7 linked regions of the Homo sapiens genome follow. The protein of the gene in region 5 purifies or fractionates together with the protein of the main gene of each other region. This does not show direct contact. Each region holds a gene or a part of one and is shown on either strand. Other genes may lie near its edges.

Region 1 (3,500 bases), on a different chromosome or scaffold from region 5:
TGTGCTTGACACTGTGGTATGTGCTGAGGATATAGTGGTGATCAAGAGAGAGACAGTCTCTTTTATGAAGAACAAGGTGGATGGTGGTACCAGTTATTGAGAGGGGCATTTACAAATGCTCCTTCCGCACTGTTCACCTGGGAAATATTTAGCCATCAACCAGAGCTTGTGTTTACCTCTTCTGTGTCCCATATTCTGGTTCTCCCCTTTACCTAGATTGAACAGGTCATCCTTTCCTTTCAGTCTTCACTGAACCCTCAATAATCGGATTTTCAAGATGGTCTCTAAAACACTTCATTAAACTCGTATTTGGTGCCTCCCTTACAAGACTGTGAACTTCTTATCTGGTAGATAAGGTGTCCTATACATTTCTGTACTCCCAGTTTCTAGTATGAACTCAAGCCACTGTAGAATGAAAAAATAAATTACAGAATGAAGTCACTTTTTGAACCCTATCGATGATGGCTCCTCAGTATTCACAGTATAAGGCTCAAATCTCCCCATTCTGGCCCTTACCCGATGTCGAATCCAGTGGTTTTTTTTTTTGAGATGGAGTCTCTCTCTGTTGCCCAGGCTGGAGTGCAGTGGCACGATCTCAGCTCACTGCAAGCTCCGCCTCCCGGGTTCACGCCATTCTGCCTCAGCCTGCCGAGCGGCTGGGACTACAGGCGCCCGCCACCATGCCCGGCTAATTTTTTGTATTTATAGTAGAGACGAGGTTTCACCGTGTTAGCCAGGATGGTCTGGATCTCCTGACCTCGTGATCCACCTGCCTAGGCCTCCCAAAGTGCTGGGATTACAGGCGTGAGCCAACGCGCCCGGCCGAATCCAGTGGTTTTAAACTCAGGCTGCACATTAAAATAACCTGGGGGCACTTCAAAATAAATACTGATATCCAGGTTCCACCTGTAGAGATTTCTGATTAATTTGGTCTGTGAGTGCTGCTCAGCTGTCCAAATTCTTTTTAAAAATACTCCAAGTGATTCCTATGTGCAGCTAGGGTTGAGTGTTCCTGCTCATTAATTGGCCTTCCCTATACCATGCTTGAGAAGTTTTTACTATCATTAAGTAAGTAAATTTACATGGCTACTCACTCAGGAACATAACACAAAGAAGAACCCAAGTAAGCCTTAGGGGAACTATCTCTCCCCCATCTTACTTAGTAGAGCAGGCCTCTCCCTACTGCTAGTGAAATAGGCCTTTCTTATACCTCCCTTTTAACTGCTCTGGAGGATCCACTCATTCAACAGATAGTGACTGAGAGCTCACAGTGTACCAGGCACTGTTTTACAGGCTGTGAATACAGCATGAACAAGGCAGGCAGGGACTGCACTGAGAGCCTACGTGTCCTTATGGAAAGACAGACAACAAATAAACAAGGTAAATTCATTTAGTGATACCACCAGTAGTATGTTGGTCAATGTTTAACCATTTAACGCTTGATATGGGAGAGCTCTGAGTTATAGCATTTGTCAATTTTTGTGGGATATACGCTCCCACCAGGGCAGATTTAAAGCTTCCAATCTGACCCCAGCAAACGCAAAGCTGGGGAGAAATGAGCAGTAGCACACAGTTATACAGGATACAGGATCTCCACCTTCCAGCACGATAGACAAATAATCTCAAGAGCACAGGTAATAGTACAATAATGAGAAAATGTTAAGTTATCAGTATTTATTACCTTTTTTAAAAACAGGATTTAATCGTAAATTTACATAATTTAATATTTAATTTTTTTTTTTGAGACAGAGTTTCACTCTTGTTGCCCAGGCTGGAGTGCAATGGCGCAATCTCGGCTCACTGCAACTTCCACCTCCCGGGTTCAAGCGATTCTCCTGCCTCAGCCTCCCGAGTAGCTGGGATTACAGGCATGTGCCACCATGCCCAGCTAATTTTGTGTTTTTAGTAGAGACGGGGTTTCTCGATGTTGGTCAGGCTGGTCGCGAGCTCCCGACCTCAGGTGATCCGCCTGCTTTGGCCTCCCAAAGTGCTGGGATTACAGGCGTAAGCCACAGCGCCCGGCTATTTAATTTTTAATAATGGCTGTGTTTTAAGAATGGGCTCACAAACTTCATGAAAATTTAACAATCAGCTCTTGCAAGCCAATAGAAGACTGCTGTAGCACACCACTGGAAAGAGAATATAAGGAAAATAAAGCTGCGGTCAGGGCATGGTGGCTCACTCTGTAATCCCAGTGATCTGGGAGGCCAAGGCAAGAGGATCAATCGTTTGAGACCAGAAGTTTGAGACCAGGTTGGCAACATAGTGAGGCCCTGTCTCTACACAAAATAAAAAAAAAAACCAGTCAGGCGTGGTGGTATGCGCCTACAGTCCTAGCTACTGGGAGGCTGAGGAGGGAGGATCACTTGAGCTCAAGAGTTGGAGGTCACAGTGAGCTATGACTATGCCACTGCACTCCACTCTAGGTGACAGAGCAAGATCCTGGCTCTAAAAATAATTAATTAAAAAGCCAAAAATTAACAACAACAAAAAAAGAAAATTAGGCAACTAATGAGGAAAATGAGGAATAGTGATTGGATAGCTGTTTTAGATTCAATGGTTGTGGAAGGCCTCTCTGAGGAAGTGATATTTGAGTTGGGACCTCAATAATACAAAGAGCCAGCAATAAAACTTCTGAGAAAACATAGCATGCCACACAGAAGGGACTATGAGCATTCGAGGGAAGAGCATTTTACTGTCTGAGAAACAGAAGGCCAGGGTGGCTAAAGCCCAGTGAACAAGAAGATTAGTAAAGTCAGAGCAATAGCAGTTAAGAGATCATGTACAGTCTTGTGGGACACTGTAGTAAGGCATCTGCATCTTTCACTTGGACTTTAACAGGAAGTCATCATCTGGATTATGGCACACCAGTGGTTACCCATCCTCAGTCTTCTTTTCATTCTAGGGTCTCACTGAATGATTTCAGGCTCACCGAATGCTATAGATACAACCTACATGCTGAAAAATCTATACATTTAGGCCAGACCCCCTCTCTTGCTCTGGCACCATATTTCTAACCCTACTTGGATCTCTTCCAAACACTATGGAATGTATCTGGCTCATAACATGATAATCCACAAGTTAAAAATCATTATATTTCTCTCTTACATCACAAACTGAACACACCCCAAACTGAATTCTATTACCCTGACCAAACCTGCTCCTCTCCCCATATTTCTTATCAATGAAAGGCATCATCATCTGCCCAGTTGCCAAATCATAGAAACCCAACAGTGAACTTCAGACTATGCTATTTTCCTTAGCCACCACATTCAAATGGTTCCAAAGGATGATGATTTACTGTCCTAAATATCACATAAATTCATCAATTTCCCTTCTTCCTGGGCTCACTGTTACTGCTTCATTACTTCTCTGGATTACTGCAATAGCATTCTAACTGATCTCCACTTTTATGCATCAGATTCCCTACCCAACCTGATTCTCTTCCTACAGTCTCTACTTAGGCAAAACAGGTTACCTATACAGATAATCACACCAGA
Region 2 (3,500 bases), on a different chromosome or scaffold from region 5:
ACTCCGGAGGCTGAGGCAGGAGCATCACTTGAACCCGAGAGGTGGAGGTTGCAGTGAGCCAAGATCGCACCATTACACTCCAGCCTGGGCAACAAGAGCGGAATTCCATCTCAAAAAAAAAAAAATTCTAAACTAGGGCACATCTCTTTACTACACCAGATAAAGGAACTGAAATATATTGTAATAGATAATTATGCATTCTCAAATTAATACTTACGATCACAATTTCAAATATCTAAGAAAGTTACTTTCTACAGTACTAAAAGGTACCAATCCTTTGTCATGCCTAAACAATAAGCTTAAAATAAAAATTCTATGCTTCTTGAAAAAATTAGTCTAAGACTATACAGAGATATTATTTGATAAAATGGTTGCATGAAATATAGCCCTATCTTGTGGTTTTGTGGTTTTTTTGGATTATATTTTTCACTGAGAGGTAACCCTCAAGCAGTACTAGAATCTTTTACTTTGAAATTCCCATGTAAATACTTAGTATTTTTATAGTCCTAACATCCACTTACAGCAGCATATTTCTTTTTTTTTTTTTGGAAACAGAGCCTTGCTCTGTCGCCTAGGCTGGAGTGCAGTAGCGTGATCTTGGCTCACTGCAACCTCCGCCTCCAGGGTTCAAGCGATTCTCCTGCCTCAGCCTCCCAAGTAGCTGGGACTACAGGCACACACCACTAAGCCTAGCTAATTTTTGTATTTTTAGTACAGACAGGGTTTCACCATATTGGCCAGGTTGGTCTCGAACTCCTGACCTTAGGTGATCCACCCACCTCAGCTTCCCAAAGTGCTGGGATTACAGATGTGAGCCACCACACCCCAGCCAAAGTAGTATATTTCACTTTAAGGTGCCACATAGATTGAACTTTTGAAAATTCTTAAGGTAATAATTTCACAAAAGAAAATTTAGTGTCTTTGGTCAGGCACGGTGGCTCACGCCTGTAATCTCAGCACTTTGGGAGGCTGAGGCAGGCAGATCATGAGGCCGGAGATCAAGACCATCCTGGCTAACACGGTGAAACCCCGTCTCTACTAAAAATACAAAAATTAGCCAGGCGTGGTGGCAGGTGCCTGTAGTCCCAGCTACTCGGGAAGCTGAGGCAGGAGAATGGCATGAACCCGGGAGGCGGAGCTTGCAGTGAGCTGAGATCGCACCACTGCACTCCAGCCTGGGTGACAGAGCCAGACTCCATCTCAAAAAAAAAAAGAAAGAAAATTTAGTGTCTTAACCAAAATTATTAAGTGTCAGGCTTAAGAGTCAGAATTTACAATTCTCATCTTAGGCTTTAATCAGATTTCTCTGTATCACTGAGATAGGTTCATGATGCATTAATCTAATTATGAGACCTGAAGCACACTCCTACCTGAATAGAATGGGACCAATATCCTGTGGTCCTTTTGGAAATCCCAAGAGTAGAAACAGCATGATGTGCATAGACTTTTGGCGAAGGCACCAACCACGAGCACCTGTGCAGAAAGTTGCTGGGTGCTGTCATGCTGGTGGCTACATAGAAAGGGATTAGACTCTGTACAAAGATTCCTTTAGAGGCATATTCATATTGCAAGGCTCTGCTGAAGTGGTCTAAATAAGCCTGTTGAGACAGAGGGGAGGAAAAGACTTTTAATTCTGGGTGAACTTGAAAATTCAGGAGAAAAAAAGACTTGCTTATTATCAATTCAGGAAAAAATACAGGATAAGCATATGTGAGTTGCTGACAAAGAGTTCAACAAATCAGACCAAACAACTGTTAATAAATGTTCTGTGGCATTAGGATTTCATCTTCCAGTAAGTAACATCTGACCTTAGAAGCAGAAAATGCAGCCAGCTGAGGAGTGGGTTTGCAGCAGGAGCCAGAAGAGATCGTGACGATGGCACCTTTCTTTCTCTCCACCATTCCCGGTAACACAACATGGACCATCAAACTAGCGGCGGCAATGTTCACATTTATGATGTCCCAGAGCTTGTCCTCGGACAGCTGAGTGAAATACTGCGGGTAGGGATAAAACACACCCACGTTATTTACCAAGATGCCAACGTCTTTGTCCTTCAGGGCTTCTCGAATTGGAAGGTAGATCTCACGACCGCTGCTGAAGTCCGCAACTATAATATCAGTTTCCACTTTGTACGTGTCGGCTATGTCTTTAGCAACAACCTGCAACTTCTCCTCGTTCCGACTAATCAGGATTATATTGAGACCTCGGCTTGCTAACTCTTCAGCGTAGGCTTTTCCAATCCCATCTGTTGCACCTAGGATGCAAGTCAGGAAAAGTGAGCATGTGTATTTCACGGTGTGACCCTTAAAATGGACCCAAAGTACCCCCTGTCAGGTTTAGTCAGAGAAAAATTCACACTAGAAATCAAGTCGGTTCTAGTATCTACAAGTCAAGGACACTGTTGCTGAATGAGGAATGTGAAGGGCGCATGCTATACACTCTCCCAGACATCCTGACACACGGACAGGGAGTTATTTTACATTCACCATATTGGTTAGGAGACACAGTAGGAATTTGTTTTCAAACTACTATCTGGCTTGAATGAGTGGCAGGAGGTGCTTTTCTGGGAAATCTTCATAAATTAAAATGAAATTCAAAATAGGTGAAGCATTTCTGAAAGTGGCAACACTTTCAAGACAATTTTAAAACAGAGAACAAAAAGGAAAAGCACATAGTAGGAAGTGGGTCTGGAGGAGGACTGGGAACAGGAGAGAGCAGAATAGGAAGGATACCAATCATGAGGCCAGTTCTTCCTAAGATGAGAGCAGTAAGAAAATGAAATGTGAACATAATCACGGCAGGAGCCATAAGTTTTATTTTTTTATCAGCATGTTCCCATAAAAACACCACATTAAATTCAATAGCTCCTTGAATAATGCATCCGACTTCACAGAAAAGATTATTTTGATTATAAAGTAGGTTACCGCTGACAACGGCCCATCTTCCATACTGCTTGATCAAGTCTGCTCTGCTCCCCAGGCGGGGGATAAAATGCAGCCTGATCAGGCTGTAAAAGTCACAGATGACAGTGATGCTTTTTCTGGCCGTATACCAGGCTCCAACCAAAGCTAGAGCTTCCATATAGCAATTGCAAGACCTGGCGATTTCCCTGTACAAGAGGTAGAAACTGTCAACAGCAGCCATGGCAACCTGCAGGGAGAGGGAAAGAGAGAGAGCCTCTTTGATTAATAAATTAAAGGAACATACACAGTCTGAGTGAAGACATCCAGCTGAGGGCATCAGATCTTGTCAATTGTACGTTCAAATAACACTAACTTTTCAAATGTACGTGGCTCACAGTTTCAGTCTATCTATCTATCTATCTATCTATCTATCTATCTATCTATCTATCTATCAGACAGAGTCTCACCCTGTCGCCCAGGCTGGAGTGCAGTGGTGCGATTTTGGCTCACTGCAACCTCCACCTCCCGGGTTCAAGCGATTCTCCTGCCTCAGCCTCCCAAGTAGCTGGGACTACAGGCACATGCCACCACGCCCGG
Region 3 (3,500 bases), on a different chromosome or scaffold from region 5:
TCCATTTGTTTTTTCTTTCTTTTTTTAAGACAGGGTCTCGCTCTGTCTGTCGCCCAGGCGGGAGTACAGTGGCGTGATCTTGGCTTATTGTAGCCTCCACCTCTCGGGTTCAAGTGATTTTCGTGCCTCAGCCTCCTGAGAAGCTGGGATTACAGATGTGTGCCACCATGCCCAGCTAATTTTTGTATTTTTTAAGTAGAGAAGGGGTTTTGCCATGTTAACCAGGCTGGTCTCAAACTCCTGGCCTCAAGTGATCTGCCAGACTTGGCCTCCTGAAGTGCTGGGATTACAGGTGTGAGCCACTGTGCCCGGACGGGCCACAAATTCTTTGATACTTTTCTCACTGAGAGGTGGCATCTAAGTCCCCTCCCCTGGAATAACACCTGGCTCTGTGACTATTTTGACCAACAGAATATGGCAAAAGTGACATTGTGCCAGTTTCCCAACATAGACTCTAAGGGACTGGCAGCTCCTACTTCCTGTCTCCTGGAATGCTCATGCTAGGAGAAGACAGCTGTCATGTACGGAGTCCAACCAGCCCGAGATTGCTATGTTGTATGCAAGCACAACCAAGTCACATGAAGAAGCTCCTCAGTGAGAGAGATGCCCGACAGCCCCCAGCAGGTCCAGTTATCCCAGCCCAAGAACCAGAATGTGAGTGAAAAAGGCTTCAGATGCCTCCAGCCCCAGCTGCCATCTAATTGCAACAGTATGATGGAGACCAAACATGGCAGCCCCTAAACCATGTCACAGAACAGTAACCCCAAAACTGGTTTACTATAGCACTTAGAATAAAATCTAAACTAATTTCCCTGCTCACTCAAGTCCTGTGTGATCTGGAACCTGCCTCCCTCTGTCACCTCCCTTCCCATGCTCTCCTTTGCCCTCCAGGGTGCAGCCAAACTGGCATTCTTTTTTTTTAACACGCCAAGCTCCAACCAGCCTTAGGGGACTTGCAGTGGTTGTTCTCTCTACTCTGAATTCTCTTTTCTCATTTTCACTGTCTTTTCATAAGGCAGGCAGTTTAGCATGTGGTTCAGAACATGGGCTCTAGTGCCCCAGTTTTCTTCTTTGTCAAATGAGGATAATGGTAACAACTGCAAAAGGCTGTTCTGAGGATCAAGTGAGCTAACACATGTAAAGCACTTCAAACAATACCTAACATACAATCATCACGCAGTGAATGCAGCTGTTTTTGTCATTCAGATTTTGATTGTTATCAGATATTTCCCTGATCACTCTATCTAAAGTATCAAGTCACTCCTATATTACCCTATTTTAACTTTTTATATAGCACGTCTCACTATTTGATATTTTTCTTCTTTGCTTATTATCTTGTCTCTCTCAACTAAAATCAAACGTCCAGGAGAGAAGGACTTGATCGATCTTGTTCTCTTAATCTCAACCCCCAGAACAGTGCCTGACACATAGCAGGTCCCCAATAAATACTGCTAGGTCGAATGAAAAGTGCACTGTAGTATGTGTTGAGTTAGGAAAGGCTTGTAGAAATTAACTGGGGAGAAAAAGGTTATTTCAGAAGAAAAGAACACTATATAGAAAGGGAAGGACTCGAGAGAGAGCATGATGTGTTCAGGGAGCTGCTCCTTGTTCTGCATGTCAGAGTAAAGTACCTGTGAAGGAATGGGGAGGGATGAGAAACGCAATGTGGCCAGAGCAAGATGAAAAAGTATCTTCCAAGTCATATTAATGATTTGGTTTTTTTCTCCTTGTAGATGGGTTAGGAGTAATAGAGGCTGCTGGGGACTATGTGTACAGATATCATGAAACTTTACCACCGCCATCAAGAGGTAGATAATCTGGTTAGAGAAGAAAAAAGTATTATCAACGAGAGTAGGAAAAGCATCACGGAGTTGGGAATTATGAGAATTCTTTGTATTTAGGCAGTTACAGAAGATGGCAGAGCAAATACAGGGGTAGGGCCTGGAAGCTAGGATGGGCCAGGATTACAGAAAAGTATAGCTGAGGTAATTCTGTGTGAAGGCCTTGGCACTGAATGAAGGGTGTGTACCAGGAAGTAGGGTAACCATGAAGAGTAACAGTTTTCCTCATATGATAAAATAATGGAACCTACTATGCTTTTTCCTTTCTAAAAGAGAATCATAAATATTTTGGGGGTATGGGGGGTGGTGATGACGAAGCCTCAAATATTAAAAGATGTATAACACCATATTCCTTCTAACATGGTAAGTTGAGACTATCCAGCTGGTAATGATATAAAAATTTGAGTCAAATAGATACTTTCATAAAGATTATTCCTGTGTGCCACAACTGCCTGAAAGTATTCAGGCTTAAAGTGCTCTGACATACTTGGTATATTTCTGTCAATTACTTAATCTCTTCTGTATATGCTCTCCCAAGGGGACCAGTTATTCCCATTAATTTATGCCATAAAAGGGCAGATGTTTTCCCCATCCACTGTCCATTTCTTTCTTTCTTTTTTGTTTTCCCTTGAGACGGGTTCTCACTCTGTCACCCAGGCTGGAGTGCAGTCAGTGCACAATCATGGCTCACTGTAGCTTTGACTTCCCAGGCTCAGTCAATCTTTCCACCTCAGCCTCTGGAGAAGCTGGTGCGCATCACCATGCCCAGATAATTTTTTGTAGAGACAGGGTTTCGCCATGGTGCCCAGGCTGGTCTCAAACTCTTGGGCTCAAGTGATTCACCTGCCACGGCTTCACAAAGTACTGGGATTACTGGTGTGAGCCACCATGCCTGGGTTTGTCTATTTCTTTATCATAGTAACTAAAGTCAAATAAGATCATATAAGGTATGTGGGCACATGAAAGAAATATTTTCTTATTGAAGAACAGTTTAAAAAGGAATTCATTTTTTACTTTAGGTACTTTAGAAAGATGAGGCCGGGCACGGTGGCTCACACCTGTAATACCAACACTTTGGAAGGCCGAGGTGGGCGGATCACAAGGTCAGCAGATCGAGACCATCCTGGCTAACATGGTGAAACCCTGTCTCTACTAAAAATACAAAAAATTAGCCGGACGTGGTGGCGGGCACCTGTAGTCCCAGCTACTCGGGAGGCCGAGGCAGGAGAATGGCATGAACCTGGGAGGCGGAGCTTGCAGTGAGCCGACATCGTGCCACTGCACTCCAGCCTGGGTGACAGAGTAAGACTCTGTCTCAAAAAAAAAAAAAAAAAAAAAAAGATGAATTTCTGGATAATAATTTTTAAGAAATGGAACAATATAGCAAATTAGCTAAGAAAGATGGATACCTACTTTTTCTGCAGGGCTCTTAAAGCACACCATAAAACTCTTTCTCCTCCTCCACCAGCATTGCAGTATGGATGAAAAAATGCAATCACCATTTGATTTTTCCCATTTTTGCTAGTTGACACTAATTTTTTCTTTCTCTGTAGCAGCAGTCTGATTCCCCAAAGGACAATGACCAAACACACACATAAAGTTCCACATACAATGAGCCCAGGGAAGAATAATGAATAAAAAAACCTGAAATAAGAGGAC
Region 4 (3,500 bases), on a different chromosome or scaffold from region 5:
CTTCAAAAGGAATGAGTAAACAGATGCTAATTCATGAATACTGATAAATATGTTTGATTATCTTTAACATATAAATAAAAACCCAAAGAATAAACTATAGAGTAGCATATTAAACCAAGAAAAGTGTAATAATTTTTTTAACCAATTGAAGTTAGAATATTATATTCATTTCCAATTTTATTTATTTACCTAAAACATTTTAAAAGTAAACATTCATTATATAAAGGCCTGTGACACAAAAAAATCTAAAATCAGTCTTAAATAAAAAATATTTCTATTTGGAAGGTGATAATGAAAACATGGCTCTACCTTCTAATTCCCAGCTAGATATTTGGGCTTTCACAAAGTTTTATAACAAACTTAAGTGCCACATTTTTTAAAAGAAGAATATTTTCTTATTTCATGGGTTCTTCTTGACTTAGAAATATGTCAAACATTGAGTATAAAACTATTAGAATGAGAAGTATACAGAGAGAAACAGAAATTTTCATCAGTTGAAAAATAAATGTCCAAAATTCCATATAAAATTAAGGAGGCTAGTTCATTTGATTTATTACTAACACTTACCAGTTGTTTTTCCAGGTAGATTGACCAAACCACAGCATAATGACCCACTGTGAGAATAATGAACAAGAGTAATGCCAGCTCAGCATTGCTCATTTTTCTCACCCGCCTGTAGTAGAATACAGGCTGTCGCCAATCTGGAAGTCCATTGATCAGAATATCATCATACCTACAGTACAAATATAACAGTTTTTCACGGGGAGTTTAAAATAAAAACAAAAAAAACTATTTGTGCCTATATTACAAAAAGGAAAAAGAAAACAAATTATCCAAAATAGATAATGTTTATGTACGTTCCCAGCATTATAATATCGAGTAAATTCAAAGCACTGTAGATAGCTCTAGTCACTGACACCCTTCAAAAAAGTGTCCAGTAATATACTGTGGATACCAGATCTCATGTTTTTACAGCACCCAAAGATGTGACTCCTGGAGTGACATCTAAACTAAAGGAGCTACGTGTAGTCTACCTGTCTACTAGTCTATAGTAAAGACTCTACCATTGAAGTCAGCAACAAAAAGGAGGATCTCAATAGGAGAAAGATCAAGATAAGAGCTGTTTGTTACCGTGAATTACATATTAATTGAATCAAATTCAGAATAAATTTTCTAGTCAGTGCTTTTATGTCTACCCCTAAACTACGGTGGCTCAAGGCTGAAGTATTTATACACATGATTTTATCAAAGCTTTTTAATGAGGTAAAAGCCTATAAAATTGAGTGTCTTTTAATTTTGTATTGCTATATTCCTTTAGAAAATAAAAAACTCCCAAATTAAAAAGAGATGTGGTAACAACCAGTGTTTATGTTGGATTTCTCAATAAAACTGTTTATTTGTAAACAATTAAGTGGCAATTTCCTCATTTTTGGCTTTTGCTGGAAGAGAAGAACATTAACAAGTAAAAGCTTTCCTAGTCCTTTAAAAAGCTGATGCATTTTAAATCAGCTTTCTTGGTACTATCAGGATAAAAAAGTTACTTTAAAATAAATTTTCAACTCAATTTAAATTTACTTGTCAGACAATCATTGAACAAATATCTTTGAGGTTAAAAATAAGGAGTAACATTTATGACTGTAAAACTCAAAATGGTCACATACAAACACTGTGTGTTCAACACACACAACCTGTTAATTGAACACAACTCATTAAATATTCTAATCACACTATTTCCAGAATTAAATCTTCACTGAAAGGCCTAATTTGGTGCAACACATTGACCAAAATATTTTAATTAAAAATATTCTGAGTTAGTCGCAGGCCTAATTACAGGAATAGAAATAGGGCCTATATTGTCAGGCAGGTCAGTAGAACTCGGTAGTAGGTTTTTCTCAAGTAAATTGACCGATCTAGGAATAATAGCGCAGCTGCTAAACTGCCAGTCTTGACATGTAAATCAATTTAAATGCAACAACTGCAGTAGCTACTTTGATAGTTATTAAATTGATACCTTGGAGATATGCTAAAAAAATAAAGCAGAGGATTTATTACAGGCAACTTCTTTTTTCAGTAGAAAAACATCAGATATAAATGTAAAATATATTTTATTAGCAAATCTAGAAAACCTGACCTTCTGATCAACTTAGGTTATTAATAACAATATCATCAAATTGGAATAACCAATGTTGAAAGCAAAGGACATTAATTAGTACTAAACTCTTAAAAAGCAAATTGTGTAATATACAAGAGTCTACAAAGTAATGTATGGTTTGGCAGTAGCTACACCAGAAAAATTTGGTGCTATTCTTTTTCAATGTTTATCGAAATTCTTGAATATTAACATCAAGATATAATAATATGACTTCATAAAAACTATCATTCATGTTATCAAAAATTTATGTTTAAATCTATCTTATAAATACTGATTCATTTTAAATGAGAAAATGTATAGGTAAAAAGGTTTCAAGTGCTCTAACATAAGATTACAACATTCAAATGAAGTCCAATCAACCTTAAGTCCTGAATCTATTCTCAATCCACATTCTACTTCAGATTTGTTGAGGGAGAAAAAAGGTGAATATAGAAATCATCATTTTCAGCAAACCTCTCCCATGAAATAACTTCAGGTAAAAAGTATAGTTATTGATAAAGAACATCTAAGAAAATGGAGACAATTCCCTAATAGCACTCTTAAGTATTAAATTTGCTTTGGGTATAACTAAACTATAGCAGAAGAGAAAACAGCTGAACTCATAGCTAAGAATCTCTTATCAAATATTTTATCACCATCATAACTGAAAGTGCTATGTGTCTGTTAATAGCTACTATTTTCTACCCTACGTACAAATTGTATTTGGTGTACAAATTCAAGATAGCAAAATCTCATGCACTGAACACATTAAACAGAACTAGATATTTACTAGCCTATGTCTGTCACTCTAAACAACAGTCTCTAAGGATTAAGCTTAGAATCAATGCTCTATTGATTTTACTATCAATGAACTATATTATAGCTCACACGACTGGCCATTTTAAGGAAAGATAGCTTCCATTATAGTTCATTTTTTAGAATATATGCTGTTAAAAGATAAATCACTGCTTTCTTGATGAAACATTGAAAATACATTTCTTACCAAAGTACACACAGACACTTTTCATAAGTTATTTAAGAAGAAATACTGTGTTGACAACACATAAAATTTAAAACATCACTGTATTAGGCTTTTCTATATTTAAACATATAACACTGTTAAAATGCTCTGTATTTGGGATTCATACAAACTGTTCTCAACTATTTATTAAAGCCAGATTAAGAATGTATAAATGTATGTGTTGTAAGATATAAAGAAAGAAATCTCTATGATAAAAAATATCACTAATGCTAAAAATCATAGGAAATTATAATGGCATTTTCTTGGAAATGAAAACATTAATCAATTCCACATATCCAACATATGGCCTAATGTGTGTTTATTTCACTTGATTTTCTTAAAATATAC
Region 5 (3,500 bases):
AATATGGGATAAGTAGTCAATATCAGAAATGTGAGACAATAAAAACAAGATATATTCCAAAGCCTAATCCTAAATTTAAATCTACACTTCATTCAACTCTGAACCTGACCTTGAAACATGGAAGAAGTTACTTTACCTAAGCACACTGCACCAGTGTAAAACCAATGCCAATTTTAGCTGCTTTATACTGCTTAATGTGTATATGTACACATGTATTCTTAAAATGGTGATTCTTAAATTGAAGTTCTGAATTCTTTTGAGAATCTAACAGAGGTCATGAAAACTTGCTTCAGAAACACACATATGTAAAGTACTTTTAAGTGTTGATCATGTACTATAAATCACAGCATTGTGGATGCAATGGGATTAGACATGAAGAAAAATTTTATATTTTTAATAAAGACTGGTTACTAACCTTAAGGAATATACTTAGACTCTGAAAGTAAAAGGAAAGTGCAATGACCATATTTGTTCATTCATCTGCCTATTTTCAAATCTAATGATGATTTGGTTGATGCAAATATGTCCCTAATCTAGGCTATAAATGATAAAAACAAAAATGTTTAAGTTCTAACTTTTGTTAGCAGTATACATCTAAGAATTTTCAAGTATTACAAAATACTTGGAAGGAAAGACTTTAATATACCACTTTCAAAATCCTATGTACCCAAACCAGCAATGAAGTGGTGGGATATATAACGTTACCTTGGGCAAAATTTAAGAAAATAAAGACACAATAGCTCTAATTTTTTTTTTTTTTTTTTTTTTGAGACGGAGTCTCGCTCTATTGCCCAGGCTTGCATGCAGTGGTGCTATCTCAGCTCACTGCAATCACTGCCTCCTGGGTTCAAGCGATTCTCCTGCCTCAGCCTCCCAAGTAGCTGGGATGACAGGTGCCCGCCACCATGCCTGGCTAATTATTGTATTTTTAGTAGAGACAGGGTTTTGCCATGTTGGCCAGGCTGGTCTCGAACTCCTGATCTCAGGTGATCCACCTGCCTCGGCCTCCCAAAGTACTGGGATTACAGGCATGATCTAAATTCTTTATACCCTTCAAGGGCAGGAAACCAGTATCTCTGAAAAGCTTGTTTGTTTTAATACAATTGAACATTTCATCTTTCCCCCCACAGTAATCAAAGCAAACATTTTATCATTATTATTCTTGGTATATCAAAGTAAATTCCAGGAATGTAAGAAAGTCTGACTTGGAAATATTACATAGAAAAAGGCTGAATTAACACATTACATTTTTTAGTTTTTCCTTGTAAGTATACATTGACATCTACTTATCTGATAGCAGCACTGCTGGTTTTGAGTGAGTTTTGTTTTGTTTTGTTTCCTTCCAGAGGGAATGCAGTATGGCAGCATTTTCTTTGGAACAAATTAAGAAGATAGTAACAAATAACAGAAGAAATACTTCTACACATATATTTTCCATGGGCAATAAACAGATAAGTATATAATTATGAAAAAATATGCCTCAACTATGCTTTTTAAAATTTCTCAAGGTATACTGGTTTGTTTTTCTTATTCAAATATAATGCACTATCACTACTATCTGTCCCGGGAAAAACAAACCCTGAGGTTTGAGTTACCTCCTTCAGCCAACAGAGTGATATCAAGAGTAAACTTGGATTGAGGTCAACCTGTTTGAGCCAATAGAGAGTTCTGTAGTATATCTGGTTATTTTACTAACGTATACATATTCTAGGTTATAATCAAGATACTCATTAAATATTTTCTATCAGAGTTTTATATCCCAAACAGGTTCTTTGATGATTTATCATGCTACCATAGGAAATTTGAAGAAATAACAAATTGTGTAACAGAAATAGACATGCAATATAAAGGACATAAAAGATACAGCTTGACCCTGGATTTTTCCCTTAGAATAATTCCTTCCATAAATAAGACTCTATTTTTACATACAGATTCATCCTATAACTGGTCTTGGATCATAAAGTTAATGACATAGTTGAAAAAATCCAGACCACACATTTTTGTGGTCTTTTGTCACCCCAGACCACACACAAAAAAAACACTCTCCAAGTGGATGCTCAGGTCAGATTATGATGCTCTTAAATAAATGTACTGAAGCTTAGAATGTAAAGCACACAACTATTTGCAGCAGCAATAGTCTTTCAAAATAACTAAAACAAACTTTTAAATATAAGGCATATAAAACAGACTATTAAGGATAGTTTTCCAAACTATATATAGAAACACAGGAAAATATGTGTGGCCTCATAATAAAGTTAAATAAATATTATTTCTGAGTTCTTATAAACACTATGAGGTTATAGTTTTATTTGGTTCCCATAAATTAAAAACTCTGATTGCTTTTACATAAATTCTTAGCTACTCTCAGACTTTTTTTTTTTTGAGACGGAGTCTCCCTCTGTCACCCAGGCTGGAGTGCAGCAGGGCGATCTCGGCTCACTGCAACCTCTGCCTGCCGGGTTCAAGCAATTCTCCTGCCTCAGCCCTGAGTAGCTGGGACTACAGGCACGCACCACCATGCCAGGCTGATTTTTTGTATTTTTAGTAGAGACAGGGTTTCACCATGCTGGCCAGGCTGGTCTCGAACTCCTGGCCTCAGATGATCCGCCCACCTTGGCCTCCCAAAATGTTGGGATTACAGGCGTGAGCCACTGCGCCCGGCCCTTTCAGATTTTTATTAATGTCTTTTTATAAGACACAGAGATTATCTCTAACTTCATTTCAGAAATGTGCTTTTTCATTGGTTTTAATAAGTACATTTAATTTTCTAGCAATGAACATGACTTAAAATTTAAGGTTCAAGGTAGTTCTAGAAAAAGGTAGACACTGAACTATCTGCTTTTCTACATCCCCATATTTACAAAGCCTAGCATCCACTGTGCTTTCCTCCATACACTCAATCACATTGTCAATAAATAGTAACTGTGGTCCAGGTTACCTATGATAAAGACTCCAAAATTCCTCAAAATTTTACAACACTACAAAGTCATTAATATCTGATATTGATAGGTTATAAGTATTAGTGTTATGTAACTTTTTGCTATTGGAAAAGAAATACAAATCTTTATTTTTGCTATCTAAATTAAAACTAAGCTCCATGATCAAGATAATACCTAAAATGTACATTCCTAAATAAAGGTAAAGCTGTTTAAGGGCTGAACTAGTCCAATATACAATTAAGGGTTATTTATTCCTATTCTTTTGTTTTTGTTTTTTTGAATCCCTATGTTAAACCCGTGGTTTCTCATGAATTAGATCATAATTTAACATTGTAAAATTTCAGAAACTATTGTGCTAATATTTAGATTTCAGGAAGGAATCAGACTAAATCAATTACCTCCATTCATTGTTAGAACAGAAGATATAATAGCTTACTAACTGATATGAGTTATGAATGTCACTATGACACAAAATTTGCTGTGATTTGCTAATCTGGCTACAAGTGCAGTATTTTTCATGAATGTCAACACACAGCATTTCCAACTTGTAACATGAAACTC
Region 6 (3,500 bases), on a different chromosome or scaffold from region 5:
CTTATGCCACTTAACAAAACGATCTCCGGTTCCATCACTGTTGTTGCAAATGACAGGATCTCATTCTTATTTATGGCTGAATAGTACTCCATTTTGTATATGTACTGTTTTCTTTTTCCATTCATCAGCTGATGGAACCTTAGGCTGCTTCCAAATCCCAGCTATTGTGAATAGTGCTGCAATAAACATGGGGGTGCAGATATGTCTTCGATATACTTAATTCCTTTCTTTTGGGTATATATCTAGCAGTGGGATTGCAGGATCATATGCTAGCTCTATTTTCAGTTTTTTGAGGAACCGCCAATCTGTTCTCCATAGTGATTGTACTAATTCACACCAACAGTATATGAAGGTTCCCTTTTCTCTACATCCTCACCAGCATTTGTTACTGCCTGTCTTTTGGAGAAAAACCATTTGAACTGGAGTGAGATGATATCTCATTGTAGGTTTGATTTGCATTTTTCTGATGATCAATGATGTTGAGCACCTTTTCATATACATGTTTGCCATTTGTATGTCTTCTCTGGAGAAACATCTATTCAGATATTTTGCCCAATTTTTAATTAGATTATTAAATTTTTTTCCTACAGGGTTGTTTGAGCCCCTTATATAATCTGGTTATTAATCCCTTGTCAGATAGACAGTTTACAAATATTTTCTCCCATTCTCTGGGCTCTCTCTTCACTTTGCTGATTGTTTCCTTCACTGTGCAGAAGCTTTTCAACTGGATGTGATCCCATTTGTCCATTTTCACTTTGATTGCCTATGCCTGTGGTGTATCACGCAAGAAATCTTTGCCAAGTCCAATGTCCTGGAGAGTTTCCCCCAATGTTTTCTTTTGGTAGTGTCATAATTTGTGGTCTTAGATTTAAGTCTTTAATCCACTTTGTTTTTTTATATGGCAAGAGAGAGAGGTCTAGATGCATTCTTCTGCATAAGGTTATCCAGTTTTCCCAGCTTCATTTATTAAAGAGATTGTCCTTTCCCCAGTGTATGTTCTTGGAACCATTGTCAAATATGAGTTCATTGTAGATGTATGGATTTATTCCTGGGTTCTCTATTCTGTTGCATTGGTCTACGTGTCTGTTTTTATGCCAGAACCATGCTGTTTTGGTTACTATAACTCTGTAGTATAACTTGAAGTCACATCATGTAATTCCTCCAGTTTTATTCTTTCTGCTCAAGATAGCTTTGGCTATTCTGGGTCTTTTGTGGTTCCATATAAATTTTAGGATTTTTTTCCTATTTCTGTGAAGAATGTCATTGGTATTTTGATTGGGATTGCATTGAATCTGTAGATTGCTTTGGGTAGTATGGAAAGTTTAACAATATTGGTTCTTCCAATCCATGAATATGGCTTATCTTTCCATTTCTTGGTGTCCTCTTCAGTTTCTTGCATCAGTGTTTTATTGTTTTCATCCTAGAGAGCTTTCACTTGTTTGGTTAATCCCTAGGTATTTTATTTGTAGCAATTATAAATGGAATTACTTTCTTGATTTCTTTTTCAGATTGTTCACTGTTGGCATATAGAAATGCTAATGATTTTTGTATGTTGAATTTGTATTCTGCAACTTTACTAAATGTATTGATTAGTTCTAATCAATACATTTTTTGTTTTGTTTTTTGGTGGAGTCTTTAGGTTTTTCCAAATAGGAGGTCATATCATCTGCAAACAAGTGTAATTTGACTTCTTCCTTTCCCATTTGGATAGGCTTTATGTCGTTCTCTTGTCTGATTGCTCTAGCTAGGATTTCCAGTACTATGTTGCTATTCAACATAGTGGGCATCCTTGTTATTTCAGATCTTAGAGGAAAGGCTTTCAGTTTTTCCCCATTCAGTATGATTATTTGCTGTGGGCCTGTTGCATATGGCTTTTATTATATTGAGGTATGTTCCCTCTATACTCAGTTTTTTGAGGATTTTTATCATGAAGTGATGTTGAATTTTATCAAATGCTTTTTCAGCATCAACTGAAATGATCATATGGTTTTTGCCCTTCATTTAGTTGATATGATGTATCACACTGATTGGTTTGTGAACGTTGAACCATTCTTGTATCCTTGGGATAAATTCCACTTGGTCATGATGAATGATTTTTTTTTTTTTTTAAATGTACTGCTGACTTTGGTTTGTTAGCATTTTGTTGAGAATTTTTGCATCAGTGTTCATCAGGGATACTAGCCTATAGTTTTCTTTTACTGATGTGTCTGTCTGGTTTTTGGTATCAGGGTAATTCTGGCCTCATAAAATGAGTTTGGAAGTATTCCCTCCTCCCCTATTTTTCAGAATAGTTTGAGTAGGGTTGGTATTACTTCTTCTTTAAATGGTAGAACTTAGCAGAGAAGCCATTGCATCCTTGGCTTTTCTTTGCTAGGAGACTTATTATGGCTTTGATCTAATTACTTGTTATTGGTCTGTTCAGATTTTGGATTTCTTCATGATTCTATCTTAGTAGGTTGTATGTGTCTAGAAACTTATCCATTTCTTCTAGGTTTTCCAATTTATTGGTATATAGTTGTTCACAGTAGCCACTAATGATCCTTTGAATTTATGCAGTATGAGTTGTAATATCTCCTTTTTCATCTCTGATTTTATTTATTTGGGTCTTCTCTCTTTTTTTTCTTAGTCTGGCTAAAGGTTTGTCAATTTTATCTTTTCAAAATACCAAAAAAAAACTTTTCATTTCATTGATCTTTTGTATTGTTTACTCTGTTTCAATTTCATGTATTTCTGCTCTAATTTTTATTACTTCTTTTCTTCCACTAACTTTGGGTTTGGTTTGCTGTTGCTTTTCTAGTTCTAAGACGCATCATTAGGTGGTTTATTTGAACTTTTTCTTCTTTTTTGATGTAGGCATTTATAGCCATAAACTTCTCTTAGTACTGCTTTGCTGTATTTCATAGGTTTTGGTATGTTGTGTTTCTATTATCATTTGTTTCAAGAAATTTTTCAATTTCTTTCTTAACCTCTTCATTGACCAACTGGTCATTCAGAGGCATATTGTTCAGTTTCCATGTGTTTGTATAGTTTCCAAAATTCCTGTTATTAATTTCTAGTTTTATTCCATTGTAGTCAGAGAAGATACTTGATATTATTTCAGTTTTTTGGAATGTTTTAAGATTTGTTTTGCAACCTAGCATATGGTCTATCCTTGAGAATGATCCATGTGCTGAGCAGAAGAATGTGTATTCTGCAACTATGGAATGAAATGTTCTGTAAGTATCTATTAGGTCCATTTCGTCTATGGTGCAGATTAAGTCTGATGTTTCTTTGTTGATTTTCTGTCTGGATGATCTGTCCAATGCTGAAAGTGGGGTGTTGAGGTCTCCAGCTATCATTGTATTGGGGTCTATCTCCATCTTTCACTCTGATAATATTTGCTTTATATATCTGAGTGCACTAGTGTTGGATGCATATATAACTGTTATATCCTTATGCTGAATTGACCCCTTTATCATTATACAACAAACTTGTCTCTTTTTATATTTTTTTCTTGAAAT
Region 7 (3,417 bases), on a different chromosome or scaffold from region 5:
GACGCAGAAGAAAAGATGGGACGTTTGGGAGTAAACCCCTGACCAAAGGCAAGTAAGGAAATTCCACCCTGTGCAGGGGGAGCGGCTGCCATGTCCAGCCCACCCTAGACATGGCTGTGGCCTGGCAGAGCAGCTCCTGGGTGGGCCTTCCCCCACTTCTCTTTTTTTTTTTTAAGACAGTCTCGCTCTGTCGCCCAGGCTGGAGTACAGTGGTGCAATCTCAGCTCACTGCAAGCTCCACCTCCCGGGTTCACGCCATTCTCTTGCCTTAGCCTCCAGAGTAGGTGGGACTACAGGCGCCCACCAACACGCCCAGCTAATTCTTTGTATCTTTAATAGAGACGGGGTTTCACCATGTTAGCCAGGATGGTCTCGATCTCCTGACCTGGTGATCCGCCCACCTCGGCCTCCCAAAGTGCTGGGATTACAGGCGTGAGCCACCGCGCCCGCCAGCCTTCCCCCACTTCTAAGAGGTCTTATAAAAACTTTCAAGTAAAGCATAAGGCATATAAACTTTTAATTTAAAAAAATGTACAATAAAATACGTTATCGCACACAACGTGAGGAAGTTACACATGGGAAGGGAGCCGTGGGCCCAGCTCATGCCCCAGGTCTCCTGGGAGAGACCACGCCGCACCAGGGCACCAGCTTAGGCCCAGCCCCAGCCCCAAGGTCACGCCAGCCGTGTGGTTATTAGTATCATGTCCTATGCACACAGACGCAGGAGAAATGAGTGAGCGCTGCGGCTCCCGGCCAGGGGCCCTCCCTGCCGCCCTGGCTGTCCCGGGCCAGCTCCGGGCCACACTCGGCAGTCCCATCCTGGAGCGGGGCCAGGTCGGGGTCACTGCAAGAGAAGATAGAAGGTCAGGGCTGGGCCGCCAAAACCTGACAGTGTTACTAAGTTCTGTTCTGGAAACAGCTCTCTGGGGAACCCCCACCCCAAGTCTGCCTAGAGAAGAGGGTGTTGCTGGTTGTGAGCCTCCCTGGGGCCGAGGGGTCATGGGGGACTGGTGCGTCTTTGGTCTCTGCTCCCTGGAGCACCAAAGGCCTGCGTCTGGCACGGGGGAAGCCAGGGGTGTGGACACAGAGCCTTCTCTTGCATAAGCAGAGCCTGGTGCCATTCCCACCCCCCCACTCTGTGGCCCTTGGGCTTGCATGAGGATGGGGACCCTGAGCCAAGCCCCTCTTGGAGGCCCAGCCTGGCAGCTAGCAGCAGTCACCACTTGCCCATCCCCAGCTCCCCCCAGTCCCTGCATGTGCAAAGTCCCTCCCTGGCCCAGCTGCCTGCTTCCTGGGGCTGCAGGCCGTGGGACTCACGTTAGCGGTGGCGTCTTCCAGGCCACTGCTGCTGCTGTCGTTTTCCACAAAAAGAGGCTCGGCCAGAGACGCCCTGGAGATGAAGCACAGACGAGTTTCACTCAGGGCGTGCAGGCGGCCCTCAGGCGTCTTCAGAGCTCCGGGCGTGACACCAGCGTGTGGCTGCAGACCTTGGACTTGAGGGACAGCCTAGGGGCCCCTTAGCAGCCTCCATCTGGCCAGAGCTGCTGGCAAGGCCCGTGGGGCCTGAACTACACTGCTTGGTGCCAGGAGCAGCTGTGTCACCCTCCCCCATCACCATGGCTCACCAAGCTGTGCGGTCAGAGGCCAGGCCAGCCATGCCAATGGCTCTGGCACCCACAGGCCACGGCAGCACCCAGAGGGAGGCCGAGGACACCTGCCTTCACTGGGGGGGTCCTCCCCTGGAAGCTCTCCTGGGAGCTGGTGGGCACAGGGCTGTTTCCACCCCTTGGCCAGGCCAGGCCAGCTCAGAGCACAGGGCTAAGGCCTGGATGCACGGGAGGCACTGGCCTTGAGGGTGTCTCAACCTACAGCCCCATCCTGACCCCCAGGTGGTCTCCCAGAGTGCCCCACGCCTTGGCAGAGGCAGGCCAGGCCTGACTCGCCTGAGTAACGCCTGAAGGGCATCAGGCCCCTGCCTTGCTGAGCGTCTGAAGAGGTCATGGCCACCACGGGCTGGCTTTGGTGGCACTGTGGCCAGGTTTGGGTGGTCTGAGTACCTGGTGCGGGGCCACTGAAGGAGGGGGCTGGTTGCTGCTGACCTGTGAGGGGGAGAGGGTGAAACCATGGCAGAAGGAGAGCAGACCCCCGCAAGGACTCAGGAGCCTGCGCAAAGGACACCTCTACAGAGGACGGTGTTGGCACAGCCAAGGGGTGACTGCCTGGGGGGGCCAGAGGAAGGACATGGGGCCAAGGGAACCAGTTGTGTGAGCCTGAAGCTTCTATAGTTGGGGCCTCTTTGAGAAAAATACAGAATTGGGCTCAGAGTATGGGGACTACAGAGTATGGGCACTGTGAGCCCCAGGTGGGTAGGAAGGTTTTCAGACGGTCGAGTGACAGTCCAAACGGGGTCTGGTCACCTGGGGCGGGGACTTGCTGACCAGCATAGACAATGACAGCTGTCCCCACAGGACACCTTGTTGGAGTGTGTGAATAAGAAGGTCCCCGTACTGCTGTCTCGGGGCATGGCTCGCCTGGTGGTCATCGACTCGGTGGCAGCCCCATTCCGCTGTGAATTTGACAGCCAGGCCTCCGCCCCCAGGGCCAGGCATCTGCAGTCCCTGGGGGCCACGCTGCGTGAGCTGAGCAGTGCCTTCCAGAGCCCTGTGCTGTGCATCAACCAGGTGAGCACCAAGGCAGGGTTGCACCCCTGAGCTCGTATTTTTAGCCAGGATGCGGAAGCAGAGCCGGTCTGGAGGTGGGGCGGGTGGCAGTGAGGTGGCCTCCGGCTCCTGCGGGTAGCAGCCTGTGCCTAACCATCGAGAAGACCCTCAGCCGTTGCAGCTGACCTGGACTGTGCTCTTCCAGGTGACAGAGGCCATGGAGGAGCAGGGCGCAGCACACGGGCCGCTGGGGTGAGTGCAGCCATGTGGTGTGTGCACCTCTGTGCAGGTGCCAGGGGCACAGCTGGGCCGAAGTGGGCGGGGCCACCAAGCCTGAGCGCCAGCTTGCCTGCTTCCTGTTTCTCAGGTTCTGGGACGAACGTGTTTCCCCAGCCCTTGGCATAACCTGGGCTAACCAGCTCCTGGTGAGACTGCTGGCTGACCGGCTCCGCGAGGAAGAGGCTGCCCTCGGCTGCCCAGCCCGGACCCTGCGGGTGCTCTCTGCCCCCCACCTGCCCCCCTCCTCCTGTTCCTACACGATCAGTGCCGAAGGGGTGCGAGGGACACCTGGGACCCAGTCCCACTGACACGGTGGCGGCTGCACAACAGCCCTGCCTGAGAAGCCCCGACACACGGGGCTCGGGCCTTTAAAACGCGTCTGCCTGGGCCGTGGCACAGCTGGGAGCCTGGTTCAGACACAGCTCTTCCAGGGCAGCGGCTCCACTTTCTCATCCGAAGATGGTGGCCACAGACTGAC

Evidence for each region.
Region 1: the proteins of MINDY2 (region 5) and GNPAT purify together in Homo sapiens (affinity purification with mass spectrometry; 3 studies listed by BioGRID and IntAct, with this or other methods). This does not show direct contact.
Region 2: the proteins of MINDY2 (region 5) and HSDL1 purify together in Homo sapiens (affinity purification with mass spectrometry, with the first as the bait; one large-scale study listed by BioGRID). This does not show direct contact.
Region 3: the proteins of MINDY2 (region 5) and ALG11 purify together in Homo sapiens (affinity purification with mass spectrometry; 2 studies listed by BioGRID and IntAct, with this or other methods). This does not show direct contact.
Region 4: the proteins of MINDY2 (region 5) and DNAJC1 purify together in Homo sapiens (affinity purification with mass spectrometry; 3 studies listed by BioGRID and IntAct, with this or other methods). This does not show direct contact.
Region 6: the proteins of MINDY2 (region 5) and XXYLT1 purify together in Homo sapiens (affinity purification with mass spectrometry; 2 studies listed by BioGRID and IntAct, with this or other methods). This does not show direct contact.
Region 7: the proteins of MINDY2 (region 5) and KLC1 purify together in Homo sapiens (affinity purification with western blotting, with the first as the bait; one study listed by BioGRID). This does not show direct contact.

The regions. Positions count from the first base shown.
Region 1 is NC_000001.11:231,244,212-231,247,711, reverse strand, and holds part of GNPAT (dihydroxyacetone phosphate acyltransferase), read right to left. Parts: intron 1-3,500. UniProt on the Homo sapiens protein: Dihydroxyacetonephosphate acyltransferase catalyzing the first step in the biosynthesis of plasmalogens, a subset of phospholipids that differ from other glycerolipids by having an alkyl chain attached through a vinyl ether linkage at the sn-1 position of the glycerol backbone, and which unique physical properties have an impact on various aspects of cell signaling and membrane biology.
Region 2 is NC_000016.10:84,128,178-84,131,677, forward strand, and holds part of HSDL1 (inactive hydroxysteroid dehydrogenase-like protein 1), read right to left. Parts: intron 3,151-3,500; 5' UTR 3,145-3,150; coding exon 2,925-3,144; intron 2,255-2,924; coding exon 1,809-2,254; intron 1,599-1,808; coding exon 1,371-1,598; intron 1-1,370.
Region 3 is NC_000013.11:52,018,898-52,022,397, reverse strand, and holds part of ALG11 (GDP-Man:Man(3)GlcNAc(2)-PP-Dol alpha-1,2-mannosyltransferase), read right to left. Parts: intron 3,486-3,500; coding exon 3,255-3,485; intron 1-3,254. UniProt on the Homo sapiens protein: GDP-Man:Man(3)GlcNAc(2)-PP-Dol alpha-1,2-mannosyltransferase that operates in the biosynthetic pathway of dolichol-linked oligosaccharides, the glycan precursors employed in protein asparagine (N)-glycosylation.
Region 4 is NC_000010.11:21,920,231-21,923,730, forward strand, and holds part of DNAJC1 (dnaJ homolog subfamily C member 1 precursor), read right to left. Parts: intron 734-3,500; coding exon 568-733; intron 1-567. UniProt on the Homo sapiens protein: May modulate protein synthesis.
Region 5 is NC_000015.10:58,854,802-58,858,301, reverse strand, and holds part of MINDY2 (ubiquitin carboxyl-terminal hydrolase MINDY-2), read right to left. Parts: 3' UTR 1-3,500. UniProt on the Homo sapiens protein: Hydrolase that can remove 'Lys-48'-linked conjugated ubiquitin from proteins. Binds to polyubiquitin chains of different linkage types, including 'Lys-6', 'Lys-11', 'Lys-29', 'Lys-33', 'Lys-48' and 'Lys-63'.
Region 6 is NC_000003.12:195,229,660-195,233,159, forward strand, and holds part of XXYLT1 (xyloside xylosyltransferase 1), read right to left. Parts: intron 1-3,500. UniProt on the Homo sapiens protein: Alpha-1,3-xylosyltransferase, which elongates the O-linked xylose-glucose disaccharide attached to EGF-like repeats in the extracellular domain of target proteins by catalyzing the addition of the second xylose.
Region 7 is NC_000014.9:103,698,628-103,702,044, reverse strand, and holds the end of KLC1 (kinesin light chain 1), read right to left. Parts: exon of another isoform or gene 3,248-3,417; coding exon of another isoform or gene 3,028-3,247; intron 2,913-3,027; coding exon of another isoform or gene 2,866-2,912; intron 2,682-2,865; coding exon of another isoform or gene 2,469-2,681; intron 1,391-2,468; coding exon 1,319-1,390; coding exon of another isoform or gene 1,318-1,318; intron 845-1,317; coding exon of another isoform or gene 842-844; 3' UTR 501-841; downstream 1-500. Other genes in the region: DNA repair protein XRCC3, read left to right, coding at 2,469-2,681, 2,866-2,912, 3,028-3,247. UniProt on the Homo sapiens protein: Kinesin is a microtubule-associated force-producing protein that may play a role in organelle transport. The light chain may function in coupling of cargo to the heavy chain or in the modulation of its ATPase activity.